Homo sapiens: one gene and its partners. The protein of the gene in region 2 interacts with the protein of the main gene of each other region in a biochemical or structural test. Each region holds a gene or a part of one and is shown on either strand. Other genes may lie near its edges.

Region 1 (10,565 bases), on a different chromosome or scaffold from region 2:
GGGAGGGGGTCTAAGGAATCCCCTGCAGTGTGGGAGCCACTTTATAGGTAAATCGAAGCCCAAGGACACACCAAAGAAGAGGGGACTGGAGAACCGCTAGCCAGGCCCAACCTCTCTCCCACCCTCCGTCTTCCTCCGGGTCCGTCTGGTGGGCCCATTTCGACCAACACCTCTACCCATTTTCTCTTCCCCGGTGTCAGCGCCGCTCCTGACATCCAACCTCCATGTTCCCCCTTTTATTCTCCACTACCTTTGACCCGCGCGCTCTTGGTCTCGAATTTGGTTAACATCTCTCAGGTCTCCGACTCCGATGTCTTAATCCGAGCCCCGACACACCCTGCTGCCCTTCGGACGCCTCCACGTCAGCGACCCTCTCCCGCGGTTTCCGGAAGCGCCTGGAAACACGAACTTCCGGTCTCTTAGGCTCCGGGCCACAGAGACGGTGTCAGTGGTAGCCTAGAGAGGCCGCTAACAGACAGGAGCCGAACGGGGGCTTCCGCTCAGCAGAGAGGCAAGATGGCTACGGCAGGGGGTGGCTCTGGGGCTGACCCGGGAAGTCGGGGTCTCCTTCGCCTTCTGTCTTTCTGCGTCCTACTAGCAGGTGAGGCCTCCCCGCCCGTGAGCTCCGTTCTCTAAGGGGAACTCTCGGATCGGCCCCGCCGCGACCGCCACTGTCTCCCTTCTGGTTCCTGCTGCCCCTCTGTCCCCCCACCCTGTAAATCCTCTTTCTTTTTCGTTCCCACGACAGAAGTTCCCCCTTTGCCTGGACCTGAAGGTCCCTTCTCCCCCGCAGCACGTCGTGTCGCTTCACTCCCTTCTCTAGGCCTCTTCCTGGACTTCGAGCCTGACCCTCTCCCACTTTGTCCAGATGTCTCGTTTTTCCCACAACCCCAGCCACCCACCCCACAGTCGAAAGGAACAGGTGTGAAAGTTAGCTTTCTTCCTCGCGTTTAGACTTTTTGAGACGAAAGCAATCTTGTTCTGTGGGTGCTGTGCGGCGCTTAAAAGGTGGATTTCTTATTTCTTCCTCTGTTGATTACATCCTAAGTCTGTGTCCCCCTGCCTTGCCTCAGGTTTTTTTTTTTTTTTTTTTTTTAATCAGTAAAGCAAGAATAAGGTAGGATATGGGTACTCTTAACTGTGAAGACCCTGAAGTAACAATTCAAGGAACTTTTGGCATTTATAATGTACTTAAGTGTTTGCTGATACGCGTTCATTTACTGATACATGGCTTTTTAGTTGGTCAAGCCCTAAAATGCAAATGCCTGTATATAACTATGACTGTGCCTTCCCCCAATTCACATTGTTTTTAAGGATCCTCAAAGGAGAAACTACAGCTGCCCCACACTGTGGGCACACAAATGACCTGCTGATGTTAAATTAACTGACCCGTGTATGTCATAAGGTTTCTCTCAATTCTGTTCACACTCTTGGAAAAATGCCTCAGAAAGTTTTCTTAGCCCAGCACCTGTGTATTAACCAATTAGTAATATACATACAGGATATACAAGCAGAAGTGTGATCACCTGTGCAACCAGAATCTGGCAAATCTAAGGTCAAACACCTTTCCTTTGACCAAGTTTTCTCTCTTTTAGTGTCACTGTCAATGGCGCTACATGGACTTTGTAATAACCCTTTGAGGCACATAGCTGGGTGCCATGTAGAACATGTATCTGTTACGATAAGTGTGTGCCCAAGAAATCAGAAGAATGGACTTTAATCTCATTTTAGAAAGTATGATATTAAATGATTTACCCAAGCCATACTTCAGGTTAATGACACGATAGAAGCTAGTACCTGTGTCTCTCAAATTTTTCTAACACTTTTTATCTTCCGATCAGGTTTGTGCAGGGGAAACTCAGTGGAGAGGAAGATATATATCCCCTTAAATAAAACAGCTCCCTGTGTTCGCCTGCTCAACGCCACTCATCAGATTGGCTGCCAGTGTGAGTTGAGATGGATTCATGTTTGTGGACATTGATATTTGTCTGTGCCCTAGATACTAAGTAACATCCATGTCCTGCTTAGGAGATTTGACACTTATATTGGACTGTATGTAGGCAGTTACAGATAACCGTCTGTCAAGCTAGGCAAGATAATTAATAAGAACTAACATTTAGTAAATGCTGCATACCAAGCTTTTTACATGTGCATCTCATACAACCCCAACCACAACCCCACAAAATAGGTCTTACTGTTATTGTCACTTTATAAATGATGAAACTAAAACTTAAAGAAGTTGAGTAACTTTCCCAAGATCATACTGGTAATAAGTGATGATGCCAGGATCTGGTGGCCCGAGCACTAAGCTGAGAGACCTTTTTTTTTTGACACGGAGTTTCACTCTTGTCCCCCAGGCTGGAGTGCAATGGCACGATCTCGGCTCACGGTGACCTCTGCCTTCTAGGTTCAAGTGATTCTCCTGCCTCAGCCTCTTGAGTAGCTGGGATTACATGCACCTGCCACCATGCCCAGCTAATTTTTGTATTTTTAGTAGAGATGGTGTTTCACCATGTTGGCCAGGCTGGTCTCGAACTCTTGACCTCAAGTGATCCACCCACCTTGGCCTCCCAAAATGCTGGGATTACAGGCGTGAGCCACCGCACCCAGCCGAGCCAGCACTCTTAACCACCCTATTATACTGTTTTTTAAGGAGAAAAAAGTCTCATATTCTATGGTGTCCAGTTATCACTTGCACTCTGAACTTTTTGGAACCAAAATGGGCTAAAGGCAATGAACTATCTGAAGAGAAGGCACTGAAAATGCCAAATAGGCTGGGCGCAGTGGCACATGCCTGTAATCCCAGCACTTCAGGAGGTCAAGGCGGGTGGATCACTTGAGGTCAGGAGTTTGAGACCAATCTGCCAGCATGGTGAAACCCCCCCATCTCTACTAAAAATACAAAAATTAGCCGGCTGGCTGCTATGGCATGCCTGTAGTCCTAGCTTCTCGGGAGGCGGAAGCAGAAGAATCCCTTGAGCCCAGGAGGCGGAGGTTGCAGTGAGCTGAGATTGTGCCACCATACTCCAGTATAGGTGACAGAGTGAGACACTGTCTGAAAAAAAAAAAAAAAAAAAAAAAGAAAATGCTGAATAATTGCAAGAGGAATTAGTGAAGCATTCTATTTATCCTTTTTTAAAACTTTTTTTCCTTAAATTCAACTGACAGGCCGTTTATTTTCACACTTTGTGTGTTCCAAAAGAAGGTTCCATGACACTGTGGCTTTAAAAACTATCAAAATCATAGGGCAGGAAAAGTAGTAATCTAAAGGCTAACCTGCTGTCTTCAGATTTTGTTTCCCATGGACAATAGCTCTGTCAGAATGTAGTTTTGCAGATAAGCAGGAAACTTGGGGTCTGATACTGGCTTCTTCATCATCAAATTGATCACCTCTGAATTTCAGTTTACCCCTGGAATAATGGTTGGAGTACTTGCATAAAGCTGAAAGTCAAATACCTCTTAATAGTTGTTTATTGATGACGCTAGGTAAATAGGGTGGTCTCAAAAGTGCTGTATAATTTCCTGAAGCCTTCTTCCCATTTGATAAGAGAAAACTGGGACACTGAGAAGTGAAGGACTTGTTCGTGGAAGCAGTTACTACTTTTTTAGCCATCTTTCCCTGAGCTATAGTATCTGTTAATTGTCCCATGTCCCTGCTATACAAAGCACTGGGAGTAGGTTGACTGGTTCCAAACAGCCCCAAATAAAGTTTTTGTTGTACTTAGTTTCTTTTTTTTTTTTTTGAGATGCAGTCTCGCCCTCTCGCCCAGGCTGGAGTGCAATGGCACAATCTCAGCTCACTGCAACTTCCTCCTCCCAGGTTAAAGCAATTCTCCTGTCTCAGCTTCTTGAATAGCTGGGATTACAGGCGCGTGCCACCGTGCCCAGCTAATTTTTTGTATCTTTAGTAGAGGCGGGGCTTCACCATGTTGGCCAGGCTGGTCTCGAACCCCTGACCTCGTGATCTGCCCGCCTTGGCCTCCCAAAGTGCTGGGATTACAGGCATGAGCCACCATGCCCAGCCCTCTGGACTTAGTTTCTGAACTGGTTTGTAGGTAGAAGAGAGCTAGGTCCAGGGTGGGCTGAGATCAGACTGCTGGTCTTGCTGGAACCTCACTATAAAGTACAGAAGGCCAGGACCCCAACCTCTTGTAACTAGGCTCTAAGAAAACTCCTTTGGGAATAAGTCATTCTACTCTATGTTCTTAAAACAGCTCTGTAGGAAGCAAAGCCTCTAGAGGTAAAGCCACGTGCCAGTACAGAGAAACAAGAGGGGGTAAGCGGGACTGTGGCCACTTCCTCATTAAGATCTTGGTTCCTTTTCAACCTACTTATTTCCAAATCTTACTTCGTCATATCTGTCTTTTCTGAGCAGGCTCCGCCCTTTTTAATTAGTGTAGCTAACATGATAAAACTAAGGAGAAAAAAGTGATACCCAGATTTGATTTCTGATTATAATACTCTGCTTCTCTTAGACGCTTTAAAGTTCTCAAAGGGGGCTTTAAATAGGTTTCTTTTCCCTCCCTCCCTCCTTCTATCCTTTCTTCCTTCTTTCGTCTGTCCCCACAGTATGAGATGAATAGAGGTAGAAAACCTCATTGAAGGCGCAGAGAAAATAAGCAAGTTACTTAAGACTACACCATTACTAGTTGGAACCCAGATTAGAATCCAGGTTTTTTTCAGTCCAGTATCATAGTTTGTCTTCCTGTCCTCGCTGGAGTTGAAGTTTTGGGGTGTGTGTGTGTGTGTGTCAGAGTCTCACTATGTCACCCAGGCTGGAGTGCTGTGGCACAATCTCAGCTCACTGCAGCCTCCGCCTCCCAGGTTCAAGCAATTCTCCTGCCTCAGCCTTCTGAGTAGCTAGCATTACAGGTGTGCACCATCACACTTGGCTAATTTTTGTATTTTTAGTAGAGATGGGGTTTCGCCATGTTGGCCAGGCTGGTCTCAAACTCCTGACCTCAAGTGATCCACCCACCCACTTCGGCCTCCCAAAGTACTGGGATTACAGGCATGAGCCACTGTGCCCGGCCGAAGTTATATATGTTTTAGTTGCCACACTATCTGTTCCTTTTCCCATGTTTTAAATGCTGTGGCAAGGGCCGGGCATGGTGGCTCACTCCTGTAACCCTAGCACTTTGGGAGGCTGAGTGGGCATTTAAAGTGATGCTGATATACAGCCAGGGCTGAGAACTACTGGTCTAAAATAATTGATGAATAACATATCCAATTTTCTGTAGGGAGAAGACTCACAGGGAGACCCTAGGATATCTCCACACAGATCACTGGGGACTTAAGGAGTATTACCTAATGCCTTGAATTATGTAGAATTCAAAGTATTCTGGACTCTGGGTCATCCATCCTCTAATACAGTGCTTCCCAATCTTTATCATGTCATGAGACACATAGAAAATGTTATTTGTATAGCATCCTGGCACATAGAGAAATGGGTGATATTTTCAGGGCATCCTGGGGTAAATGATAAGTAGGCTCCTGGCTGGAGGTGACTTTGGAAACCCTAGGTTTCCTGGAATGAGGAGAACCAATGAGAGCACATCTCTGATCCATTCGAGGCTTATCAATTGGGAAGCTCTGTTTTAGAAACCTCAGAGTTCTTGACTAACCTCATCTAAAACCGGCCAGAAGCAAGTAAAGTCATTCCCAAAAAGGGCAAAAGGAATGACGATCCAGGAAAGCTCCTGAGGCCAAGGGCATGTATGCATGTGTTTTTACAAAGGAAGATTCAAAGCTAAAACCCTGAGCTAGAGATTTAGTGGCATTTCCTAGAGAAAATATAGGTTTGAAAACTTTGGTGTCTATTGTTGTAGAATCTTATGTATATGGCTAAATAAGGTTGAGGGCAGAGGGCAAAAAAATGAAGTTCACAGAACCTTTCTGGCATATAATGAGTCCTCTTGTGCTCTTTTATATTCCATTCCCTCCTGATAACCTTCAGATGGAGCTGGGGCAACAGCTTTTCAGTTCAAATCTAGAGGTGCCTGTATTCACCCAAATATGTTGTGACATCTTTAGGGGATAAAAGATACGCAGAATCAGTGAGGCAAAGTCAGAATTGTTAACTATGGGAGCTTTAATTTGACTCATTCTGTCCTGGCAGCTTCAATTAGTGGAGACACAGGGGTTATCCACGTAGTAGAGAAAGAGGAGGACCTACAGTGGGTATTGACTGATGGCCCCAACCCCCCTTACATGGTTCTGCTGGAGAGCAAGCATTTTACCAGGTAAGAACTAGATGTATCTGCTGGGAAAACATCCATAGAGGGAAAGTTTCAGTGAACAGTCCTCACACTTATTAGTGAAAACTTCCCTTGGCTGCCCTGGTCTGGTCAGGGGAGAGGGCAGGGTGGTCCTCAGAAGGAAAGGTGTACCATCAAAAGAAATGATCTTGAGCTTAGGGCTAAATTTCACCTACCTGTCCCTGAGTAACCCTGGGCATCCCTCCCCTCCCTCCCTGGGGTCCTTACTCACTAAAGCTCTACTTTTTAGAGCAGATCATTGTCCAGACTCAGAATTTAGAGACTGAAAGGGAAGAAATAAGTCAACAGTTTGATTCCCCTAGTTCCCCATTTGTTTCCATCCTGCAGGCAGAATGTCAGGCTGTCTGATACCTTCCTGTGTTCCTTCATGGAATTCCTTTCCTATTCCAGGGATTTAATGGAGAAGCTGAAAGGGAGAACCAGCCGAATTGCTGGTCTTGCAGTGTCCTTGACCAAGCCCAGTCCTGCCTCAGGCTTCTCTCCTAGTGTACAGTGCCCAAATGATGGGTTTGGTAAGTGTCCCAAAGGATCAGGAGAGCCTACTGTCACCTAAGGCTCACTGTTGCTTCGGTCTTACGTCTTTGTGAGGGATGTATATGTGTTTGTGTCTGTGTGTAGTGTCAGTAACTGACTCCCAAACAGGGGGTAGTGTTTATTTGTCTTTGCTGCTCATCCCTTCCCTCTCCTGCTTCCCCTTCCTTTGCCTTACCTGGCATTATCTCTTTTTGTCACGTGTTCACATCCCTAATCTTACAGCCTAAGACTCCCTGATACCATTGTCTTTCTATTTTAGTGTGGATGGTAATAGACTTCATGCCTACTTCTTTGAGTCACCACCTCCTTTTGAACTCTTAGTCCCAACTGAAAGATTCTTCTGCCGTCACCTGGTTCCTAAGTACTTGGTGTCCCAGTAACCAGTCCCCCTATTCCCCATCCTTCCCTTCAGGTGTTTACTCCAATTCCTATGGGCCAGAGTTTGCTCACTGCAGAGAAATACAGTGGAATTCGCTGGGCAATGGTTTGGCTTATGAAGACTTTAGTTTCCCCATCTTTCTTCTTGAAGATGAAAATGAAACCAAAGTCATCAAGCAGGTAATGACACTGCCAGCTCCTAGCAATTCCAGTTAGAAAGAAGATTATTTTTCTAGCCAGGTGTGGTGGTGTGTGCACGTAGTCCCAGCCACCCGGGAGGCTGAGACAGGAGGATCACTTGAGGCCGGGAGGCAGAGGTTTCAGTGAGCTGAGATGGCACCATTGCACTCCAGCCTGGGTGACAGAGCAAGGCCCTGTGTCACAAAAAAAAAAAAAAAAAAAGGATTATTTTATAGGCTCTCCTATTTGGAGGGTGGCTCATTCTTCTGGTACACCTGCTGAAAGACGGTTGCTCCAAAAAGAACCAAGACGTTAGTTCTTCTCACATTCTTTCCCCACATTTTGCTCCTACCTGATATTACAGCATTAAAGCCTTTTAGACTAGAAGAAAATATAAAGAATATCTGAAAGAGTAATATGAAACAAGGTACACAGCCCAGGTTAAGAACCACTAGTATCGTTAAAAAAAAAAGCATTGGATTAGAGATTGAGAAATTCAATTTGGTAATTTCTGAGCTTCTTTTTAGCTCTAATATGCCTTAATTCTGGTCTAGTATTTCCATTTTGACTCATAGAGTAGTTAAGAGATTTGTCCAAAGTTGTATGGTGAGTTGATCTCCAAGCTGTGTCATATCTGATTTCCTATCTCTAGTTTGGTGCTCTTTGTATCAGACCACACTGAATCTTTTCAGTGGCTGAAGCTTCAAATTGGGCCAGGCCATCTGGAATGGGATAGTTTCATCTCCAGCTAAACCACTGAGTCTGCAACCCTTTGTAACTCTTGATGAGTTTTTTTCTTTGACCTTATAGATCCTATGGTGGTTCTAGGATAACTATAGCTCAGGGATAAATGTCTCCGAAAAGGGTGTGGCTCCATCCCAAAAGGATGGAACTGGGCCCTCCTCCTTCTGGGATGTAAGGGAGGGCCTCCACAAACTAGCTGTCTCAGTGGGGTCCATCTCCCCTTTCAGTGCTATCAAGATCACAACCTGAGTCAGAATGGCTCAGCACCAACCTTCCCACTATGTGCCATGCAGCTCTTTTCACACATGCATGCTGTCATCAGCACTGCCACCTGCATGCGGCGCAGCTCCATCCAAAGCACCTTCAGCATCAACCCAGGTAGGGCAGATCCGAACCATGAGGGTAATGGAATAAGGGGCAGAGGGAGAGTGGAACCAGGCCAGGGAATGTTAGAGAGACTGTAATAGGGAAGGAGTAGACACCATGAAGGAGCTCTGCATGGGAGAACTAGAAACAATTCTGAAAAATTTAGGCAGCTTGTTCCTAAAGTGGATAGTGGCAGAGAAGCCAACCTCGGACTGTTGGAAGTAGAGAAAACGACTTAGAGTCCGTGGGGCACTGGTCAGAGATTTCCAATGTTGCCTTTATAGCTACCTTCTCCTTTAGCCTTGTTGATCTCTCATTGTTTGTGTCCTGCTTAGAAATCGTCTGTGACCCCCTGTCTGATTACAATGTGTGGAGCATGCTAAAGCCTATAAATACAACTGGGACATTAAAGCCTGACGACAGGGTTGTGGTTGCTGCCACCCGGGTGAGTGTTGGCTTCTGATCAGGATGGGCAGGGCTGGCACAAAAAGAGCTGGTAGGCCCCGCTCTAGCATATCAGATTTCAAAGTTGCTAAATTGGGAAGCCTCAAATGGGGAGGAATCTGGGCTGTGGGACTCCTGGGTTGTCTCCATTGCCACAGGACAGGTATATTCTCTTGACTGGAGCAAGAAAGGAGGTTTGGGGCCAGTTTTAAAGTATATATCCCCTGACTTTTCTTCTGTTGTACCTAGCTGGATAGTCGTTCCTTTTTCTGGAATGTGGCCCCAGGGGCTGAAAGCGCAGTGGCTTCCTTTGTCACCCAGCTGGCTGCTGCTGAAGCTTTGCAAAAGGCACCTGATGTGACCACCCTGCCCCGCAATGTCATGTTTGTCTTCTTTCAAGGGGTAAGGGCTCTTTGGCTGGGGTGCAATGGCAGGGAAGAAAGAGGATAGTAAAGATGAGAGTGGCTACTGGTTGGAGAAGACCTCAGCACTTGACCTAAGTTGTTAACCAGCACAGAGCTTCTGGATGTGTCTACATGTGTCTCCCCTTTAGATTCCTCCATTTTAGGAAGCTTAGATTCCTTCTTTTTAGGAAGCTTTTACACCCTGAATTGGTATGTAACCAGCCCCCTCTTTCCCCCACTGATAAGATATATTGGAGGCGGCCTTTTACTTTTATTCTCTGGACTCCTTTACTGCTATCTCCATCCAGGAGCCGTTAGGCTCCTGACTCTCATCACTAGGACCACAGCAGAATAAGGGAACAGCATCTGTGGCTGAGTCACTGGAGGTGGGGGACCGTTAAGAATCAGACACATAATAGCTGATGTTCATCTTAGACCTTTACTAAGGCTACTTTCCCCATTTCTGGGCTTCAGAAGTCTTGTAATACATATGAGGGATAGTCACAGCTGGGAGGTGGGGCCAAGAGAAGCCGAAAGTCACATGACTGTAAGCTGACTAGCAGTTGAGGTGACCTGAGATAGTCGTCTTACCTACAGCTTTGATGATCTGGCCGCCTTCGAGGCTCTCCTAACCCTTTGGAATCTCTGTTCCCCCTCCCACCTACCTCCATCTCTCAGGAAACTTTTGACTACATTGGCAGCTCGAGGATGGTCTACGATATGGAGAAGGGCAAGTTTCCCGTGCAGTTAGAGAATGTTGACTCATTTGTGGAGCTGGGACAGGTATGTGGCATGTCCCCCAGCCCCTTCCTTTTTAATTAAATCTTCCTCCTTTGTTGTTCTGCGGTCTTAACTGCAGGAACCACCGCCTCTTCCCTTGACTTCTATCCCCTAGGCATGGCCCAGAACAGGAGACTGATTCTAAGTGTTGTTTCTTCATCCTCCCCCCAGGTGGCCTTAAGAACTTCATTAGAGCTTTGGATGCACACAGATCCTGTTTCTCAGAAAAATGAGTCTGTACGGAACCAGGTAACCTGAGCATCTCCCCTCATTTCCTATTCCTACAGCTCAGAATCCAGACCCCAACCCCTGCCCTGTTTCCACCAACCCCCAGGGCCTGTGAGACAGGGTAAGAGACAGGATTGGATTGGGTGTTGGCCAAAGGATGAACACCACAGCTGTTGTTGCTGCTGGGAAGAATCAGGAACTCAGTGACATTCCATTGGTTCCCTGGACT
Region 2 (10,607 bases):
CTCCATAAACATGTACAATTAAATGTTAATCAAAAAACAGTAACAGCCGAGAGCAATGGCTCACATCTGTAATCCCAACACTTTGAGAGGCCGGGGCAGGAAGATCCTTTGAGGCCTGGAGTTCAAGACCAGCCTGGGCAATATAGTGAGACCCAATCTCTTAAAAAAAAACCCAAAAATTTAACCAGGCTTGATGGTGTGTACCTGTAGTCTCATCTACAGAGGCTGATGTGGAAGGGTCACTTGAGCACAGGAGGTCAAGGCTGTAGTGAGCCATGATCATGCCACTGCACTGCAGCCTGAGTGACAGAGCAAGACCCCATCTCTAAATACAAATAAATAAACAAGCATTTTAATTCTGGGAAAAAAATAACTTTTTATTCTCTTTTTTATACTGTTTATTTGGGCTATACAGAAAACTACTCACATGATAAGAAAGGAAAACACTTGATAATCCTACCAATTATTTAAGGATACAAAGATATAAAATGTTCCCTCTACACTTTCAATCCACTTTATTTGAAACTGCAAACCGCCCTCCCATCTCCTTTCTCTATTTTATTTTTCTCTATAGCACATATCACCATCCAAGATACTATAATTTTATTTCTTTACTGTCTGTCTTCCTGCATTAGAGTGTAAGCTCCATGAGGACAGGGATTTTACATATCATTGTATCCTCAGTGCCTAAAATAGTGCTTAGCGTGTAGTAGGCACTCAGTGTACATTTACTGAATGAATGAATGAGCAAACTAAGGAAGAAATTAAACCCTACACTTCAAAGGAAACCACTGTTGACACTGTGGGTGCTATCTTCCATATTTTTTTATGCTTATGCAGATGTAAATGTATATACCTACATATTTATGCATATATGCACAGCCCATTCTTTTTAATTTTTACAGAAATGAGATCATAATGTTATTGTTCTAACATGTGCTTTTTTTTTTTTTTTGATACGTAGTCTCACTCTGTCACCCAGGCTACAGTGCATTGGCATGATCTTGGCTCACTGCAACCTCCGCCTCCCGGGTTCAAACAATTCTCTGCCTCAGCCTCCCGAGTAACTGGGATTCCAGGCATCCGCCACCACGCCCAGCTAATTTTTGTATTTTTAGTAGAGACAGGGTTTCACCATCTTGGCCAGGTTGGCCCTGAACTCCTGATTCACGCGCCTTGGCCTCCCAAAGTGCTGGGATTCCAGGTGTGAGCCACCACGTCAGGCCCCTGACATGCTTTCTTTAACTTGTCATAAACAGGCCGGGCGCGGTGGCTCACACCTGTAATCCCAGCACTTTGGGAGGCCGAGGCAGGTGGATCACGAGGTCAGGAGTTCGAGACCAGTCTGGCCAACGTGGTGAAACCCCATCTCTACTAAAAACACAAAAATTAGCCAGGCTGGCCAACATGGCAAAACCCCATCTCTACTAAAAATACAAAAATTAGCCAGACATGGTGGCACACGCCTGTAATCCCAGCTACTCAGGAGGCTGAGGCAGAGAATTGCCCAACGTGGTGAAACCCCATCTCTACTAAAAACACAAAAATTAGCCAGGCTGGCCAACATGGCAAAACCCCATCTCTACTAAAAATACAAAAATTAGCCAGACATGGTGGCACACGCCTGTAATCCCAGCTACTCAGGAGGCTGAGGCAGAGAATTGCTTGAACCTGGGAGGTGGAGGTTTTAGTGAGCCAAGACTGTGCCACTGCACTCCAGCCTGGAAGGCCAGTTTATAAGAAGCTATCCCATTGTTTTTAATGGTTACTTAGGATTTCATTGAACAAATGTCTTGTTCCCTATTTAATTTTTTTTTTTTTTTTGAGACCGATTCTCACTGTCACCCGACTGGAGGGCAGTGGCGCAATCTCGGCTCACTGCAACCTCTATCTCCCAGGTTCAAGCGATTCTCCTGCCTCAACCTCCCAAGTAGCTGGGATTACAGGCATGTGCCATCACACCTAGCTAAATTTTTTTTTTTGAGACAGTCTTGCTCTGTCACCCAGGCTGGAGTGCAGTGGTGCAATCTCGGCTCACTGCAACCTCCACCTCCCGGGTTCAAGCGATTCTCCTGCCTCAGCCTCCCAAGTAGCTGTGATTATGGGCACCCACCACCATGCCTGGCTAATTTTTTTGTATTTTTAGTAGAGACAGGATTTCACCATGTTGGCCAGGCTGGTCTCAAACTCCTGACCTCAGGTGATCCACCCACCTCGGCCTCCCAAAGTGCTAGGATTACAGGCTTGATGATTATTTTTGGTTTTGCTTAAAGAGATGGGGTCTTGCTCTGTCTCCAGGCTGGTCTTGAACTCCTGGCCACAAGCGATCCTCCCACCTCAGACTCCCAAGTGGCTTGGATTACAGGCGTGAACTATCACACCCAGCTTCATTTGTTTTGAATCCAAGGTTTTGCCATAGTACACACTGCTGAAATATTGTTGTTTTTGTTGGAAAGGGTCCTAGAAATGCCATTGCCCAAAGAGTTTGCATTTTTAACATATTAATAGGCATTGCAAATTACTCTCCAAAAATGGAATAATTTACAGTCCAAACAATACCTTCACCAATACCAAATGTTACCAATCTGAGAGGAGACGAAAGAAAGAAAAAGGAACAAAGAATCTACTGTTTTACTTTGTGTTCTTTCAACTATTAACGAAGTTAAGCTTTTTTCAAGGTTTTTTATGTTTATCATCCATTTGAATTTCCTCTGTGAATTAACTGTTCACATTCTTTGTTCATTTTTCTTTTTCTTTTCTTTTTTGTGTTTTGTTGTTGTTTTTCCTCACTCTTTCCCCTTACCCTTTGTTCATTTTTCTATCAGGTTGTTTGGGATTTATATTGATTTGTAGAAGCTCTTTGCACATTATAAACATTAGCCCTTTGTCTCTATTGTGTGATAAATGTTGTTTCTTAATCTGTGACTGATCTTTTAACTTTGTAAATGTCAGTTTTCTCAGTAGTTGCAACAGTAATAATCCTAATAGCTGACCTTTATTGAGCACTTACAATATGCTGGACACCATTCTAAATGCTTTACATGGATTGTCTCATCGAATTCTTACCTTTTGAGGTTTGAACTATTAATATCATTATCTCCATTTTACAAATGATAAAATCAAGTCTCAAAAAGGGGCCAGGCAAGTTGGCTCACGCCTGTAATCTCATCACTTTGGGAGGCTGAGGCAGGCAGATAACTTGAGGTAAGGAGTTAGAGACCAGCCTGGCTAACATGGTGAATTCCCGTCTCCACTAAAAATACAAAAATTAGCTGGGCGTGCTGGCGCGTGCCCGTAGTCCCAGCTACTTGGGAGGCTGAGGCAGGAGAATCGCTTGAGGAGGCAGAGGTTTCAGTGAGCTGAGATCATGCCACTGCATTCCAGCCTGGGTGACAGAGGGAGACTCCGTCTCAAAAAAAAAAAAAATTAGCCAGGCATGGTGGTGTGCGCTTGTAATCCCAGCTACTCAGGAGGCTGAGGCACAAGAATCGCTTGAACCCAGGAGGAGGAGGTTGCAGTGAGCTGAGATGAAGCCACTGCACTCCAGCCTGGGTGATAAAGTGAGACTGTTTCAAAAAAAAAAAAAAGGACTCAAAAAGTAAGTAACCAGAGTGGGCTCTCCCAGTTACTAATTGAACCAGAATTAGAACACTGGTGGTATTGGAATACTTCTGATTCTACAGAAGTTTTAAATATTTAAGTCATCAAATCCATCCAGTTTTTGGGTTTGTTTACCTTCTAGGGTTTGTTAGGGAGGTCTTCTTCAATATAAGATCATGAAAATATTCTATTTTTCCTGTAGTTTTATTTTAATGTTAAATTCTTTAATCTATCTGGAGTTTATTTTCAGAGGAATGAAATTGGATTTGGTTTTTTTTCCTTCCAAATGGGCTGCCAGACGTCCCAACAACAGTTTTTGAATAATGCGTCCATTTTCCTCTAATACGAATGCCATCTCTATCATATCTACAATTCCCATAGATACATTTCTCTATTTTGATTTCGATTTTTTTAACTTGTGTCTAATCATCTTATTGATTAGGGTTTTCTATCCATATCATATAATCTGCAACTAATGATTCCTTTGCTTTCCAACATATATAACACTTTTTCCATTTTCTTGTCTTTTGAGTCAATCAGACCGGTCTGAACCGTGTAGGATAAGAGTAGAGATAATGATCGGCCGGGCGCGGTGGCTCACGCCTGTAATCCCAGCACTTTGGGAGGCCGAGGCGGGAGGATCACGAGGTCAGGAGATCGAGACCATCTTGGCTAACACGGTGAAACCCCGTCTCTACTAAAAATACAAAAAATTAGCGGGGCGTGGTTGCAGGCGCCTGTAGTCCCAGCTATTCGGGAGGCTGAGGCAGGAGAATAGCCTGAACCCGGGAGGCAGAGCTTGCAGTGAGCTGAGATCCCACCACTGCACTCCAGCCTGGGCGACAAAGCGAGACGCCTTCTCAAAAAAAAAAAAAAAAAGAGTAGAGATAATGATCTTTCCTTTCCAAAGCCTGCCTTTAATGGGAGTAACGTAGCCTGTTATTACTACATTTGTTGTTGTTGTCGTTATCTTGTTTAAAAAGTTTCCTGGCTGGGTACAGTGGTCCATGCCTATAATCCCAGCATTTTGGGAGGCCGACGTGGGCGGATCACTTGAGGCCAGGAGTTCGAGACCAGCCTGGCCAACATGGTGAAATCCCATCTCTACTAAAAATACAAAAATTAGCTGGGTATGGTGGCGCATGCTTGTAATCCCAGCTACTCAGAGGCTGAGGCATGAGAACTGCTTGAACCCGGGAGGCGGAGGTTGCAGACTTGAGACCATGCCACTGCACTCCAGCCTGGGTGACAGAGCAAGTCTCCTTTTCAAAAGAAAAATGAAGATTCCCTTTCATTTTTTAAAAAAATTAAATCAGAGTAACTGCTGAATTTTATCAATGGCTTTCCACATTTGATAAACAATATATTGTTAAAACCATACCGGCTTTTCTCCTTTAAGCTATTAGAACTCTAACGCTTTTGGTTCAAGGCTTTAAGCTCTTACCAGTTAATATAGAGATACTTTTCGGAGTGTTAACACTTTAAAGCTATCAACAGCCATTTCTCCTCAGTCTGGCTGATGGTGCAGAAAATCAGAGGAGCCATAAGGATTCAAGTAGAGCCTCAAGGGCACAAACAGGTTCAGATGGGAGAAGACCCACTGGCTCTTACCTGCCCGCAGATCGCAGGCGCAGGAGAAAATAAGACAACTGCACTTTCCCCTTTTGGACCCTGCTCCGCTGGTTTGCAGCCTGGAAAAACTCTTCCTCCCCTTTCATCCTGCTCCCTCAATCTCTGCTCGTGAAAATCCTACCCATTTTTAAACGCTCAAATTAAATACCACCTTCTCCCACTGAGTCTTCCCAGATCCCCTAGATGTCCCTCCAAATCCCTACTCCTTAATGCCACATCGTATAGTGTGAAACCCCACCGCGGCAGGAATCACTTAACTGTCCCGTGTAGAATCACCGTTTATTTCTCTCTGTATCTCCAGCGCCTGGCAGTGTGCCTGGCATACAGTGGGTGCTCCTTCCATGCTGAAAGAAAGACTGACAGACGGGAGGTGTGCCCCTCTCCATCCGTCTGGCCCTTCCCGCCAGGGCCTTGCAGGGCGGACTCCACCTCGGCAGAGGGCATCCCAGACCCCTCTCCAGCCCCGGAAGCCGGATTGCCTGCCATGGGAAGACTACACTTCCCAGCGATCCCAGGGAAAAGCGAAAACCTTTTGGCTTTGACAGCCGCCGCCACAAGTCTTTCCGCCTCCCCAGCCCGCCCGGGAGCTGCGAGCCGCGAGCTGGATTATGGTGGCCTGAGCAGCCAACGCAGCCGCAGGAGCCCGGAGCCCTTGCCCCTGCCCGCGCCGCCGCCCGCCGGGGGGACCAGGGAAGCCGCCACCGGCCCGCCATGCCCGCCCCTCCCAGCCCCGCCGGGAGCCCGCGCCCGCTGCCCAGGCTGGCCGCCGCCGTGCCGATGTAGCGGGCTCCGGATCCCAGCCTCTCCCCTGCTCCCGTGCTCTGCGGATCTCCCCTGACCGCTCTCCACAGCCCGGACCCGGGGGCTGGCCCAGGGCCCTGCAGGCCCTGGCGTCCTGATGCCCCCAAGCTCCCTCTCCTGAGAAGCCACCAGCACCACCCAGACTTGGGGGCAGGCGCCAGGGACGGACGTGGGCCAGTGCGAGCCCAGAGGGCCCGAAGGCCGGGGCCCACCATGGCCCAAGCCCTGCCCTGGCTCCTGCTGTGGATGGGCGCGGGAGTGCTGCCTGCCCACGGCACCCAGCACGGCATCCGGCTGCCCCTGCGCAGCGGCCTGGGGGGCGCCCCCCTGGGGCTGCGGCTGCCCCGGGAGACCGACGAAGAGCCCGAGGAGCCCGGCCGGAGGGGCAGCTTTGTGGAGATGGTGGACAACCTGAGGGGCAAGTCGGGGCAGGGCTACTACGTGGAGATGACCGTGGGCAGCCCCCCGCAGACGGTAAGGTGGTCAGGCCAGCCCTTAGCCCTCCGCCTGCATGAGCAGAGGGGAGACAGGATGGGGATGCCTCAAGCTAGCCCCTGCTCAAATGGGCTGGTGGGGACAGCAGGAGGGACCCCTCCCCAGCCATTCCCCGGGGGTCACGTGGTTGTTGGCAGAAGTGTTCCCAAGCTCCCCATTCCCTCCTCGTCTCCCCTGGCTGCCTAGTTCCCCTTGCTCCTCATCTGACACATACGCCGTCTGGAAGGATTTGAGGCAAGACAGACACATCAGCTGGGGACCCTGACCTGGAGGAAGGGTCCGCCACAGGGGCACTATAACAGGTGTCAGCCCCCTCTGACAGTGGCCCAGTCCGAGTCTCCCAAATCCCACCACTCTAGAGGTTGGCCACCCAACCTTGTCCCCTCCTCTGATTCCCACCATTGTTCCCAGTACCTCCAGGACCAAGGAATCCTGGCAGCAGTTGAATAAGCACCTTGCTCCCACCATCTGGGCTGCCACTGGTACGGCAAAGTGAGGTTGTCGAGGCCCCCCTGACTGCACTCCGCCCGGAAGCCCTGGACAGGCTCCTGCCGTCCCCTCCTCCTCCCCTTCTCCCTCTCGCGGTCTACACTCCGGCCCCTCCCCCACCCCACACCTCCCCAGGCCAGAGGGGAACTGAACTGAGCCTGGTGAAAGAACAAATGGTAGGAAAGGAGCCAGAGCTCCCTTTTAAGAGTGGGACTCCTTCCATGGCGGGGGAGAGGGGAGTTACAGAGAAAACACTGTTATGCCCTCCCCATCCTTCCTGACAATCTCCAAGGTACCTTCAAGGTGGCTGGTGGAGGTGGCACCCTCTGCACCTCTGTGGGTGAGCAGCCCTCCATGTGGGGTGCTGTGGCTGACCTCTGTGTGCATCTGCCGCCTCTGTGGGGCAGTCCGGGCCCGGGCAGCCCTGTGGTTCTGTGTATGCTGGTGCGTGTCACCTTGAATCTGATCCTGCACATCTGTGAGCCACCTCCGGATCTGTGTCTGGGAAGTCTGTCCTTGGGAGGGTCTGTGAAGGTGGGAGTGTGTTTGGGGTGGGCGGAGGGGACAGCCACACTTTCCTGAACTTCTCAGACAGCTGGATCTGGGAGAAACACAAACCCCCACCTCCCAATTACTTTACAGAAGCCAGCCTTCCTAGGTGCGTGCTCCCCAGCCCTACCTCTCAGCTAGTCGAAAGCCTGGTCTTCCCCACTTTCTCATCCTCTTTCCTGTGCACCATAACTTCCCCAGCAGTAGTCTCCAGTGGGAATTTGGGAGGGCAGGACAGAAGCCAAATCCAGGCCCTGAGCAAACAGAACGCTAGATGATATCGTCAGGGAGCAGCAGGTATGCAGAGACCTGGGACCTACTCCTGTTTCTGCGACTGACATGCTGTGCACACTGTGCATGGACCCCATGGCACGATGCAGGACGGGGCTGCAGAACCCACACAAGCTTTGAGGTCAGACAGTCCACGAATCCCAGCTCTACCACCCACAGCTTTTCCTCTTCTCAGCTGTGTGGCCTTGGGCAAATTGCATAACCTCTCTGAAACTACTGTCATATCTTTAAAATGAGTAGGAAATGAGACCTCCTTTGCAAGGTAATTGTGAGGATTAAGTTGTGAGGGTTAATTGTTCTAGGTGCTTTCACCCAGAACAATACACCAGCATATAAAACTGACCTCCAACAAATATGAAGTCACTTTATCCTTGTCTGGCCTGTTCTGCCTCTTCAATTCTATGCAATGAGGCATAAAAACTCGGATGTCCTGGGCCTCCACGTTTTACATGTATAAAACTGGGGTATCCTGTAATCCCAGCACTTTGGGGGGCCAAGGTGGGCAGATCACCTGAGGTCAGGAGTTCGAGACCAGCTTGGCTAACATAGCAAAACCCTGTTTCTACTAAAAATACAAAAATAATTCGCCGGGCCTGGTGGCATGCACCTGTAATCCCAGCTACTCAGGAGGCTGAGGCAGGAGAATCGCTTGAACCTGGGAGGCGGAGGTTGCAGTGAGACAAGATCGCACCATTGCCCTCCAGCCTGGGCAACAAGAGCAAAACTCTGTCTCAGAAAAAATAAAAACAAAAACAAAAACGGGGTATCCATTGCTGTACTTCCCTGATCCCCTGAAATAATGCATACATCCTGCAGCCCAGTACTTAGCAGAGAGTAATTGCTCAATAAATGTCAGTTCCTTCCTCGTTCCTTTCTAGAAGAGGAAAGTGGGCTTAAAGTTCAACACCAGTCCAGGAAGCTAGTGCCAGGGAGCCCACAACTAAAGCAACTGTGTGGCTTGCACTATGATTTCTAACTAAGCCTGCATCAGCCAGTCTCTGCTCTCTGGTGGCTTGGACTCTCTCCCCATCTGTCTGTAAGAAGGACGCCCTTTCTTCCTACCTGGCGCGGCTGTTGTAAGTGCCAAATGAGAACTTGGATGGCATTGTATTCTGAACAAGAAAAAGTAAAATTTGGGGAGCACTTTCTCTGTGCTAGGCAATTAATTGGTGGTGCCTGGGGGCTGATCCACAAAGAGACAAGAAGACATGTTTTCTGCCCACATAGAGTTACAGTGGAAGTGAAAGGGCGGAAGTGACGAGTACAAGGTCATCCATGCAGATATACTCAAAGCGAGGTCGGCAAACCCTCATTGGAGTCAGCTAAAAATGTAAATTCCCTGGCCCCATCCCTGACCTCTAGAGACAGGATCTCTGACAGTGGGGCCCCGTAGTTTGTGCCTCAAATTTGAGAACCATTTATGGCTGGACGCGGTGGCTCACGCCTGTAATCCCAACACTTTGGGAGGCTGAGGCCGGCGGATCACCTGAGGTCAGGAGTTCGCGACCAGCCTGGCCAACGTGGTGAAACCCCATCTCTACGAAAAATGCAAAAATTATCTGGGCATGGTGGCAGGCGCCTATAATCCCAGCTACTCGGGAGGCTGAGGTAGGAGAATTGCTTGAACCCAGGAGACAGAGGTTGCAGTGAGCCGAGATCACGCCATTGCACTCCAGCCTGGGTGACAGAGCGAGACTCCGTCTCAAAAAAAAAAAGAAAAGAGAATAATGTATTTATAGGAGTGCAGAGAGTGAGTGCCACAGGTGTTCAGAAAGTGATAAACTCATCCAGGAAAGCCGCACCAGGGACATGTGCTCTGAGCATGGTCTTGAAGGATGGACAGGAGTGGCAGGCTATTCCCAGGGGGCAGATGGCACCATACTATCCCACTGTACTGTAATTGCACGTTACACGTATGTCCATGTCTGCTCCTTCCCACCCTACCCCCTTAAAATTGGGAGAGTCCACAGTGAATGAGAGGATGAGTTATGGATGTTAGGGCTTAAGCATGGTTGTTTAGGAGACAATAGAGAGCCAGTCCTGTTAATATTACAGGTTTAGGCTAAGACCAGATAAGTTTGGGTAAATAAAATAGAGCCAAATAGCCATAAAGCTTAAATGTGAGACTATAAGGTTTGGACTTTGGCCTTCAGATATAAGGGAAAATCTGAATTTATTGGGGCAGGGGAATGACATGAAGAAAGCAATCTTTCAGGAAGAGACATCTGAATTTTAAAAAGAGTGGGGGCTGTGTGTGGTGGCTCACGCCTGTAATCCCAGCACTTTGGGAGGCCAAGGCAGGTGGATCACAAGGTCAGGAGTTCGAGACCAACCTGGCCAATATGGTGAAACCCCGTCTCTACTAAAAATACAAAAATTAGCTGGGTGTGGTGGCGCGTGCCTGTAGTTCCAGCTACTCGGGAGGCAGAGGCAGAAGAATCTCTTGAACCCGGGAGGCAGAGGTTGCAGTGAGCTGAGATTGCGCCACTGCACTCCAGCCTGGGTGACAGAGCAAGACTCCGTCTCAAAAAATAAATAAAAATAAAAAGAGTAGGACTGAAAGACACAGGCACAGGGGGCTGTCACAACAGTCCAGGTGTGAGGCCCTCTATGACAAGGAGGGCATGAGGCTGCAATAAGATGGAAAGAGAAAGGAAGGGCAGGATGCAGAGAACGTGCCAGGGCAGGTGGGAAGGATTTGGTGACATTGGTGTGAAGGGAAAGGAAGAGGGCATCAAAGATGGTTTTGA
Region 3 (10,565 bases), on a different chromosome or scaffold from region 2:
GGACAACTGCCCAGCCAGTAAATAAAAGAGAATGGATCCCTACCTTATTTCTTAGACCAAGCTACATCTCAAATGAATAGACGATATAAATGTATAGATTGAAACAGCGAACTATTAGGAGAAAGCATTGGTATTTTTTAGTACCTTGATGTCAAATCAAGATGTCATAAAGGAAAATGAAGACTGTGTTTATGGCTGGCCGCGGTGGCTCACACCTGTGATCCCAGCACTTTGGGAGGCTGAGGCAGGTGGATCACTTGAGGTCAGAAGTTGGAGACCAGCCTGGCCAACATGGCGAAACCCCATCTCTACTAAAATTACAAAAATTTGCCGGGCATGATGGCGGGCGCCTGTGATCCCAGGTACTGAGGAGGCTGAGGCAGGAGAATTGCTGGAACCCAGTGGGCAGAGGTTGCAATGAGCCGAGATCGCACCACTTCACTCCAGCCTGGGCAAAAGAACAAAAGTCCATCTCAAAAAGAAAAGACATTTAACTATGTTTAAAAAACAAAAACATAAAGTAAAAATCAGGAAAAATGTTTGCAATATATATGACAAAGACCTGTTTTCCCTAATATTCAGAGTACATTCACTGTTTACTAAAAAAATTGCAAATAACTATAGAAAAAGGGGCAAAGGATACAATTATTAAATAGTTAAGTCATAGAACAATATAAATCCATAGTAAATAAATGAAAAAATGTCCAACTTCACCAATAAAGAAATGCTTATTAAAACAAGATACCATTTTATGTTCATCAGTTTTGTAAAAATTATAAAGATGTATAATGGGCATTCTCATATCCTGTTGGTTAAGTGTATAAATTGGTATAGCCTTTCTGAAGGGCAACTGGGCATCATATTAAACCAGCAATTCTACTCCTAGGTAATTATCCTAAAGAAATACATATATATACATGTATATATACACACACATATATGTACACACACACATATATATATATTTATTTACTTATTTATTTTTCGAGATGAAGTCTCACTCTTATCCCCCAGGCTGGAGTGCAGTGGCGCTATCTTGGCTCACTGCAACCTCCGCCTCTCGGGTTCAAGCGATTCTCTTGCCTCAGCCTCCCAAGTAGCTGGGATTATAGGCGCCTGCCACCACGCCTGGCTAATTTTTGTATGTTTAGTAGAGACGGGGTTTCACCATGTTGGTCAGGCTGGTCTCGAACTCCTGACCTCAGGTGATCCTCCCGCCTCGGCCTTCCAAAGTGCTGGGATTACAGGCATGAGCCACCGTGCCCGACCAATATATTTATATATATTTTTAAGTGATCATTTCTAAGATTAGCAATATATTGAAAACCTTAAAATGTTCGTGTACCTTAGCTTAAGCAACTCCCTTTCTGGGAGTTTTCCTTAAGGAGGTGACTAGGTATGTGCATGTATAAGGATCTTTTGTGTTTATTTCAGCATTGCTTATAATTAAATGGGGAAAAAACCCAAATGTTCAAACGATTGACTCAGTTTTGGGGTCTGTGTATAAAGTAGAATAGGCCATGTGCAGCGGCTCACGCCTATAAATCCCAGCACTTTGGGCTGAGCCAGGTCGATCACTTAAGCCCAGGAGTTCGAGACCAGCCTGGGCAACATGGCGAAACCCCAGCTCACGAAAAGTACAAAAATTAGCTGGCCGTGTTGGCGCGTGCTTGTAAGTCCCAGCTACTGGGAAGGCTGAGGTGGGAGGATCAATAGAGCCCAAGAGGTCAAGGCTGCAGTGAGTCGTGATTATGCCGTTGCATTCCAACTTGGGTGATAGAGTGAGACCTTGTCAATCAGTCAACCAGTAGTCGAATATTACCTAGCATTGCAAATGATGATATAGCTCTATAGTGATGAAAGATGTTCATAGAAAAGCAACATCATAAAGGTTTTATTGAAAACTCTCTATAAGAGTAAACTCCAGAATGTAAAGTGGTATTGGGGTGGTGAGGTTATGGGTCATTTTTGTTTTATATTTAGTAATTTATTTTCTAATTTTTCTTCTAAGATCATTGATTATTTGTATGGTTTTTAAAACCTCACCTATATAACCATTTCATTTAATGTTGAATTTTGAATTCAGTTCTCATTTTGTCATTATTTAGAAGATAAATTTTGTCCTTAAGGGAACAACTTTAAAATTTAGATTTGTTGTGTTTTTAGCTGTTGAAAGATTGCTGCCCTATTTAAAATATGATTTCCTTATTTATAGTGGGAAAGTAAAACTGTCCTGCGCAATGAGCCTTTGGTTTTAGAGGGAGGCTATGAAAACTGGCTCCTTTGTTATCCCCAGTATACAACAAATGCTAAGGTCACTCCACCCCCACGACGCCAGAATGAAGAGGTGTCTATCTCATGTATGTATGTGAAAATTTTTGTTTAAAATTGCTTTGGTAAAATATGGTTTAAAATTGTTTTCCCGGTAACATTCTTGGTTGTGTGTGTATTTGTCCTATTAGAGAGCAGTTTGTTTTCAGGCATAAAAATATAAGCCTGGAAGTTCACATTTTCTTTAAGACTGTTGTAATTGTTTTTTCACTTAGTTTACATTTAATTACTGCATTAACACGCATGAGAAATGTAAGTACTGTGTATGGGGTTTGCTATTCTAAAAAACATTTTTATTTTTGGAATTTTAGTGGATTTTACTTATCCCTCATTGGAAGAATCAATTCCTTCTAAACCTGCTGCCCAGACGCCACCTGCATCTATAGAAGTAGATGAAAATATAGAATTGATAAGTGGTCAAAATGAGAGAATGGGACCACTGAATATATCAACTCCAGTTGAACCAGTTGCTGCTTCTAAATCTGATGTTTCACCCATAATTCAGCCAGTGCCTAGTATAAAGAATGTTCCACAGGTATGTTCTTGATTTTAACATTATTCTCGCTTTTGTTTTAATATTAAATATATAGTATAGCTGGGCACAGTGCCTCACGCCTGTAATCCCAGCACTTTGGGAGGCTGAGAGGGGCAGATCACCTGAGGTCAGGAGTTTGAGACCAACCTGGCCAACATGGTGAAACCCCCCTCTCTACTAATAATACAAAAATTAGCTGGGCATGGTGGTGGGTGCCTATAAATCCAGCTGTTTGGGAGGCTGAGGCATGAGAATTGTCTGAACCCAGGAAGCGGAGGTTGCAGTGAGTCGAGATTGCACCACTGCACCCCAGCCTGGGTGACAGCAAGACTCTGTCTCAAAAAAAAAAAAAAGAATTAAATACATAGTATAGAAACGAAGTTTAATATATAACCTTTAACATCTTAGAAAAAAGTATCGATGAGAACAGTCTGTATGTTTTGATAAATTTTTTGTTTAAAAATTTTTCATCATAATTCAGCATTACCGCCACGCCTATATTAGAGTAGATAATTAAGGGGTTTCCAAGCCAGTTGGCGATCCATTTGCTACAAACAATGCCAATGAAAGATTGCATTATCACAGTGAATTAGAATAGCCCTTTTGGGATTTTTTGTATTATAATTTGACCCATATTATTTTCATAAATAGCTTGGCTTACATATGATAGGTATGTGATGTCAGTATTTTGGTTTTAAAACAGTGCTTTAGTTTCATTTCCTTAGAATTTGACACGCAAATAACAGGCATGTTTAACAATAATCATGTAAAAGTTTTTAAATAACCAAGACATTACAAATAAAAAAATTTTAGTTTTTATATCCTTCATTTGGCTTTATTTAAAGAAAGGTTAACTAATGTTCCCCCTCCATGCATTTCCCAATAACATTTTTTAGCATTCATTTTTAATTTTTTCCCCAGATATATTTAAAACAGTATTTCACATTTAAAGTGGATGACGTTTGATTTGTGGAGCAGGTATTGAATAGAAAATCTGGTAATTTTTTGTTATAAACTGAAGTGGTTCATTTCTTCATTTTTTTAAGGTCTTTTAGTATTGCAGAATAAATTGCAGACTAAATAGATGTGATTAAACAACTTTTCTTAAAGGGTGAATTTAGGAAAGTCTAAAAAGAGCTTCTCTATGTTATTGCATTTCCTTTCAACTTAATCTATTTAAACGCTAATCCTTTTGTGTCCCAACATAACTTTATGAGATACGTACAATTTTCAGACATATTTTGAAGATCTTCTATATAAAAAACAGCATGAGGGCTGGGTGCCATGGCTCGTGCCTGTAATCCCAACACTTTAGGAGGCGGAGGCAGGTGGGTCACCTGAGGTCAGGAGTTCCAGACCAGCCTGGTCAACATGGTGAAACCCCATCTCTACTGAAAATACCAAAATTAGCCAGGCGTGGTGGTGCGTGCCTGCAGTCCCAGCTACTCAGGAGGCTGAGGCAGGAGAATCACATGAACCCAGGAAGCAGAGTTGTAGTGAGCCGAGATCAGGCCACTGCACTCCAGCCTGGGTGAGAGTGAGACTCTGTCTCAAAAAAAAATAAAAATAAAAATAAGACAGCATGAAAGTTTGTATATACAAGAGATGGGTTCTTCTGATGTTTGGAAGGAGAGATCTGTATAAAATCAGCCACAGCATAAGGCAGAATATCATAATTGCTCTACAAGGCACTGGAGCACAGAGCAAGGAGAATATTCTAGCTGAGAAGATCAAGGACGTCTTCATGGAGGAGACAGTATTTTATCTGGGCTTTAAGAGTAGGATTGGAGGATAGAAGAAACAAGTAGAAAATTCTATGACCAAAGGCATAGGGCATGCTCTGGGGCCAGTGAACAGTTTTGGCATATGTGGGCGCTAGTCTCTGTTGGAGAGAGGAAGTTATGATAGTAGATAAGATTAGAAGGATGGACAAGAGTCATCAAGAGAGACTTGGATCAAATTTGAATTTTGTCCTGTAGGCACAAGGAACCATTAAAGAATTTTAAACTTGAGAGTAACATGATCATAACTATACTTTTAAAATTAGGGAAAAATAGATCAAGCCACCAAAATGTAAATGGAAACAACATTTATTTTTGTTTCTGTTCCACCTCTTATTGTTAACCTCATCCCCATAGTGGTTCTTCCTACTTTATTCTCAAATACATGCAAAAAAAAAGACAAAGGATTTTTTTTAAGAGGCAGAAAGAGAAGTGAACAGGAAAAAAATTATTTTTTCTACACTAACCTCGTTTTCTTTTTCTTTTCTTTTTTTTTTGAAAACGGTCTCACTCTCTCACCCAGGCTGGAGTGCAGTGGCGTGATCACAGCTCACTGCAGCCTCGACTTCCTGGGTTCAAGCAATCCTCCCACCTCAGCCTCCTGAGTAGCTGGGATTATAGGCACATGCCACCACGCCCAGCTAATTTTTGTATTTTTTTTGTAGAGATGGGGTTTTGCCATGTTGCCCAGGCTGGTCTCGAACTCCTGGCCTCAAGTGATCTATCCGGCTCGGCCTCCCAAAGTGCTGGTATTACAGGCGTGAGTCACTGCGCCTGGCAACTTCTTTTATTTTCTAGTAGAAAAACATAAATTCGTTTTGTAAGAACACTATGTAGATTGTTATTGGCACATGTTCTTATAAGTTTTTATTTTTCTTTCAGTACACAGTATTCTCAAGAAATGATGTTAGGGTCACTTCTCTAGTGTTAACATGCTGTTAAATTGAGGTAATAAACATTTAACTCATTAAATCAGGAACTTAGGTAGTTTATTACACAACCTGAAGGAAACTAGTTAGTATTTTACCTCATGTAAAAGTTTTTAGGGAAGATTGCATTTGTTCCCTCAGTAACATAGTTACTAACTGTGCCAGGCACAGTCTTTATCCTTTTAGAGCTTATATTCTAGGAGGGAAGAAAAATTTTAAATAAGTAATTATAGTTATTTGATCAGAATTCCGGTAGAGAAGAATAAAGTATTATAAGAGCATGTATCAGGGGACTTGGCTAGTTCTAGGAACCAGGGAAGTCTTTTCAGAGGGAGAGATGTGTAAGCCAAGACCTAATGTGGGCATTATCTAGATGAACAGCTGATAGACCTAAGTTGGGAAGGAGCATGGCATCTTGGAATAATTTTTTTTTTAAGGCAAGTATAGCTGGTATACACAGCCATATGACTGGAGAGGTAGGCAGATGTAAGACCATACAGGGCATTACAGACTATGGTAAAGATTTTAGGTGTACTGAGAGCATAGTGGGTAGCAAATCAAATTTGTTTTAAAATGAGTCCTCTGGCTATAATGTGGAGAAACAGATTGGGGGGCGGGGGCAAGAGAAGAGATGGGCAACTAGTTGAAAGCTATGCTGTAGTCCTGGTGAGAGAGGAGGTTGACATGGTCTTAGCCTGTGGTAGAAGAGATGGAGGGACAGATATAGGAGGAAAATTAACAGCGTGCAGAAGGATATGGGAAGAACATATCATGGGACTCAGGTTTTTGATTTGTGCAACTATTGGGAGAGTGAGAGTGGTTACATCCATGAGATTAGGACCATGTTTGTCGGGGTGGGGGGAATCGTGAATCCGTTTTGGCTGTATGGGGTTTGAGATACATGTGTTGACACTCAAATGGAAATATTGGGTAGGCATTTGGATACCTGGAAGTGGAACTTAAGTCTAAGTATGCCCAGGTCTAGGTTTTATGTTTTAGAATAAAGACATTTTTAACTCTTTTGTATACAAAACACTCAGGAAGAATTGAAAGTGTTGAATCAAGAGGATGTAAGTTCCAGTGATGTTTGAATATCTACCATTCAAGTTCTGTTTTATGAGAAATCTTGACACTGAGTAATTAACAAATAGATGTGCTGATAGATGTTGTCTCCACAAAGTGACACTTCTTTTATCACAACTTGATCTCAAGAACTGAGGTTATTTCCTGATTTTTGACAAAAATGTTTTGCTCTGGTTTTGTTGCTCTAGATTGATCGTACTAAAAAACCAGCAGTCAAATTGCCTGAAGAGCATAGAATAAAATCTGAAAGTACAAACCATGAGCAACAATCTCCTCAGAGTGGAAAAGTTATTCCTGATCGTTCCACCAAGCCAGTAGTTTTTTCTCCAACTCTCATGTTAACAGATGAAGAAAAGGCTCGTATTCATGCAGAAACTGCTCTTCTAATGGAAAAAAACAAACAAGAAAAAGAACTTCGGGAAAGGCAGCAAGAGGAACAGAAAGAGAAACTGAGGAAGGAAGAACAAGAACAAAAAGCCAAAAAGAAACAAGAAGCTGAAGAAAATGAAATTACAGAGAAGCAACAAAAAGCAAAAGAAGAAATGGAGAAGAAAGAAAGTGAACAGGCCAAGAAAGAAGATAAAGAAACCTCAGCAAAGAGGGGCAAAGAAATAACAGGAGTAAAAAGACAAAGTAAAAGTGAACATGAAACTTCTGATGCCAAGAAATCTGTAGAAGATAGGGGGAAAAGGTGTCCAACCCCAGAAATACAGAAAAAGTCAACAGGAGATGTGCCCCATACATCTGTGACAGGGGATTCAGGTTCAGGCAAGGTAAGCAGAAACAGTACAAATTGCCAACGAAGTGAAAGAAAATGTATATGAAAATGTGAAAACACCAGTGGCATTCCATAAAAGGGCAGGCATTTCAAATAGTCTTTTCAGGGGTGATAGAATGTACTGATCTATCCACATTTGCTCATCTATTCTCCTTTGAGGCCAGTGCCATACATTTATGAAATGATTGGTTGGGAATGAAATTGCTTTTTGTATATTACATCTATAAAATGCAATATATTTCAAATAATTGAGATAAATAGCTACATTCTTCATTTTTATGTTTGATGTATGATCATGGGAAGACTAGAGTGAAATATAATCTCCTTCTCAGTATGGGGAAACTAGATGCTAATATTTGTATGATAGAATTTATATCTGTTTAGAATATATCCAAAATCAGTGACATCTAAATGGCCTAACATTTATCTTTGCATATAGTGATTTTTTGGTCAGATCGGTGTCATTTTGTTTCTTGCTTTATCTATTTAAATAATATTGGCAAATAACCCAATTAATTTTGCCCTTGGCTACACACCCAAAATTGATAGCCGTAATTTTAGGGGACTTTTTTTGTTATTCTTTTTCAATCTCTAATAATGCTATGCTTTTCTTTTTTTCTTCATTATGTCATTAACAATGCCTTTTCCTTTTGAACACCAAGTATATGTTTATAATACCAAGAACAGTTATGGTCCTTTTTACATATGTATAAATGGAAAAAACATTTTTAGTAGTGTGGAAATGACTTCTAATGGAAGGCGGGATACCATCTTTACAGAATGTCAATTTCTATACTTCTCAAACACAATTCAGGCATGTTACCAAAATTAATTCATAGTCAAGCTGCTCTTATCCAGGGAACACTTATCTGGTAACCTCTGCTATTAAAAAAGATAGCTTCCATCCAAAAACCTTCTAAACACCCCAAATTGGGGATATGAAGCCCATGTACTAAAACTCTCTAATTTTATTCACAGGAGGAGCAAAACATGTGCACTCCAAGATACAATTTAAGTATTATTCATTGAGTAGCTACTATATGCCAAGTATTTTCACTGCATTGTCTTATTTACCCCTAATGATAACCCCATAAGGTATTTAATTTACAAGTGAAACTGAAGTTTAGAGGTTAAGTATTTGCCTAGGATCACATAGACAGTGAGATTCCAAAGCCACTTCTTTTCCATCTTGCTATACTAGAGGCATGCAGTCTTTAGAACTTAAATCATTCATATTTGTGGAGTCATTTAGTATATAGGTGCCAAATATTCCTACACATCTAAGATTGCATTCTTTGTGTGCTCCTTTTAAAAGTAGGAGAAATATGTAATTTATTCTAGAATAAATTTTGTTAAAATTATCACTAATTTTAAAAAGTTTTTAGTAGAGTTATTTTAAAATAAGATATAAAACAAAAATGAGTTTTTAAAAAGAATCTACGGGCCGGGCGCGTTGGCCCACGCCTATAATCCCAGCACTTTGGGAGGCCTAGACGAGCGGATCACTTGGTCAGGAGATCAAGATGATCCTGGCTAACACGGTAAAACCCTGTCTCCACTAAAAATATAAAAAATTAGCCAGGTGTGGTGGCGGGCGCCTGTAGTCCCAGCTGCTTGGGAGGCTGAAGCAGGAGAATCACTTGAACCCATGAGGCAGAGGTTGCAGTGAGCCAAGATCGTGCCACTGCACTCCAGCCTGGGTGACAGAGCGAGACTCGGTCTCCAAAAAAAAAAAAAGAATCTGTGATGTTATAAGAAGATATGAATATAGATTTTTGCATTTTTTACTATTGGTCTGTATCTTAATTTCTTCTTTCTCTTGAATACTTCAAATTTTTTGAAGCACAACTCCTTTCAAGATAACCAAAATCGTAATAGTATTTAAATAAAAGAATAATGTTCAAATTAGGTCATGGTGAATATACATTAATGATCAGCATTTTATACTTGGCCATGTAGTGTGAACCAGTGCTTCACAGTCCACTTTGATTTTCATCTTTTTTTTTTCTTCACTGATTCATCAGAGTTCTTTAGTTTTTTAAGTATTTTGAATGTGACAGTAAAATATAATAAAATTTTCAGAGGCCTTTTTTTTCTCCTTTTACATTTTCATTCTCATAGATTCGGTTGTGTTAGCTAGTAGCTTTATGTTGGGAGGAGAATTAAAGTTTTCTTTCACTTCTGTAATTTTAATAATTTTACAGCCATTTAAGATTAAAGGACAACCAGAAAGTGGAATTCTAAGGACAGGAACTTTTAGAGAGGATACAGACGATACCGAAAGAAATAAAGTAAGTAGTTTATTGCAGGAAAAAACTGGAAAAAAAAGCCAAACATGGATTATAACTATGTGATTATCTTACCACACTGCTATCTTTTATCATGAGATCTACAGTGTAAGGGGATCGTTGCCATCTTTGGTAGCTGGTGTTTTGCTTGTTTTTGCATGATCAATCCATTTATATGCTAAAGGAAATAGTTTGTCTTCCTGTTTAAAGTGTGACAGCGTATTCTATTTATTTTATGAAAGTAAAAAATGTTTAGGCCTTACCATATGATCCAGCAATTCTACTTCAGGGTATATACCCAAAAGAATTGCAAACAAGAAGTATTTGTACACCCATGTTCTTAGAGTATTATTCATAATAGCCAAAAAATGGAAGCAACCCAAATGTCCATCAGCAGGTGAATGCATAAACAAATATGGTATGTACATGTAATGGAATATTATTCAGCCTTAAAAAGGAAAGAAATTCTGACACGTTACAACATGGATGAATCTTGAGGTCATTTGCTAAGTGAAATAAGCCAGTTTCAGGATAAATACTGAATGATTCCATTTCTATGAGGTTTGTAAAGTAGGCAAATGTATAGAGACAGAAAGTAGAATGGTGGTTGTCAGAGCTGGAGAAAGGGGAAATGGGGAGTTATTGTTCAGTAGGTACAGAGTTTCAGTTTTACAAGATGAAAAGAGTTCTGGAGATTGTTGGCACAGCAATATACTTAGTATCACTAACCAGTGCACCTAAAAATGGTTAAGATGGTAAATTTTATGTTATGTGTATTTCATCACAATTTTTTAAATACATAGGCTTTGTATAAGACATCTTTGCTGGGAGCGGTGGCTC

Evidence for each region.
Region 1: the proteins of BACE1 (region 2) and NCSTN form a complex in vitro, tested with the Homo sapiens proteins (one study listed by BioGRID).
Region 3: of the proteins of BACE1 (region 2) and USP8, one has a biochemical effect on the other in vitro, tested with the Homo sapiens proteins (one study listed by BioGRID).

What each region holds. Positions count from the first base shown.
Region 1 is NC_000001.11:160,342,881-160,353,445, forward strand, and holds the start of NCSTN (nicastrin isoform 1 precursor), read left to right. Parts: upstream 1-502; 5' UTR 503-516; coding exon 517-601; intron 602-1,595; exon of another isoform or gene 1,596-1,709; coding exon of another isoform or gene 1,710-1,734; intron 1,735-1,841; coding exon 1,842-1,946; intron 1,947-6,118; coding exon 6,119-6,242; intron 6,243-6,668; coding exon 6,669-6,790; intron 6,791-7,224; coding exon 7,225-7,370; intron 7,371-8,341; coding exon 8,342-8,492; intron 8,493-8,815; coding exon 8,816-8,925; intron 8,926-9,173; coding exon 9,174-9,326; intron 9,327-10,006; coding exon 10,007-10,111; intron 10,112-10,279; coding exon 10,280-10,357; intron 10,358-10,442; coding exon of another isoform or gene 10,443-10,451; exon of another isoform or gene 10,452-10,565. Other genes in the region: COPA (coatomer subunit alpha), read right to left, coding at 251-290. UniProt on the Homo sapiens protein: Essential subunit of the gamma-secretase complex, an endoprotease complex that catalyzes the intramembrane cleavage of integral membrane proteins such as Notch receptors and APP (amyloid-beta precursor protein).
Region 2 is NC_000011.10:117,311,435-117,322,041, reverse strand, and holds the start of BACE1 (beta-secretase 1 isoform A preproprotein), read left to right. Parts: upstream 1-5,785; 5' UTR 5,786-6,246; coding exon 6,247-6,507; intron 6,508-10,607. UniProt on the Homo sapiens protein: Responsible for the proteolytic processing of the amyloid precursor protein (APP).
Region 3 is NC_000015.10:50,474,634-50,485,198, forward strand, and holds part of USP8 (ubiquitin carboxyl-terminal hydrolase 8), read left to right. Parts: intron 1-2,215; coding exon 2,216-2,360; intron 2,361-2,642; coding exon 2,643-2,866; intron 2,867-6,847; coding exon 6,848-7,432; intron 7,433-9,641; coding exon 9,642-9,728; intron 9,729-10,565. UniProt on the Homo sapiens protein: Hydrolase that can remove conjugated ubiquitin from proteins and therefore plays an important regulatory role at the level of protein turnover by preventing degradation. Converts both 'Lys-48' an 'Lys-63'-linked ubiquitin chains.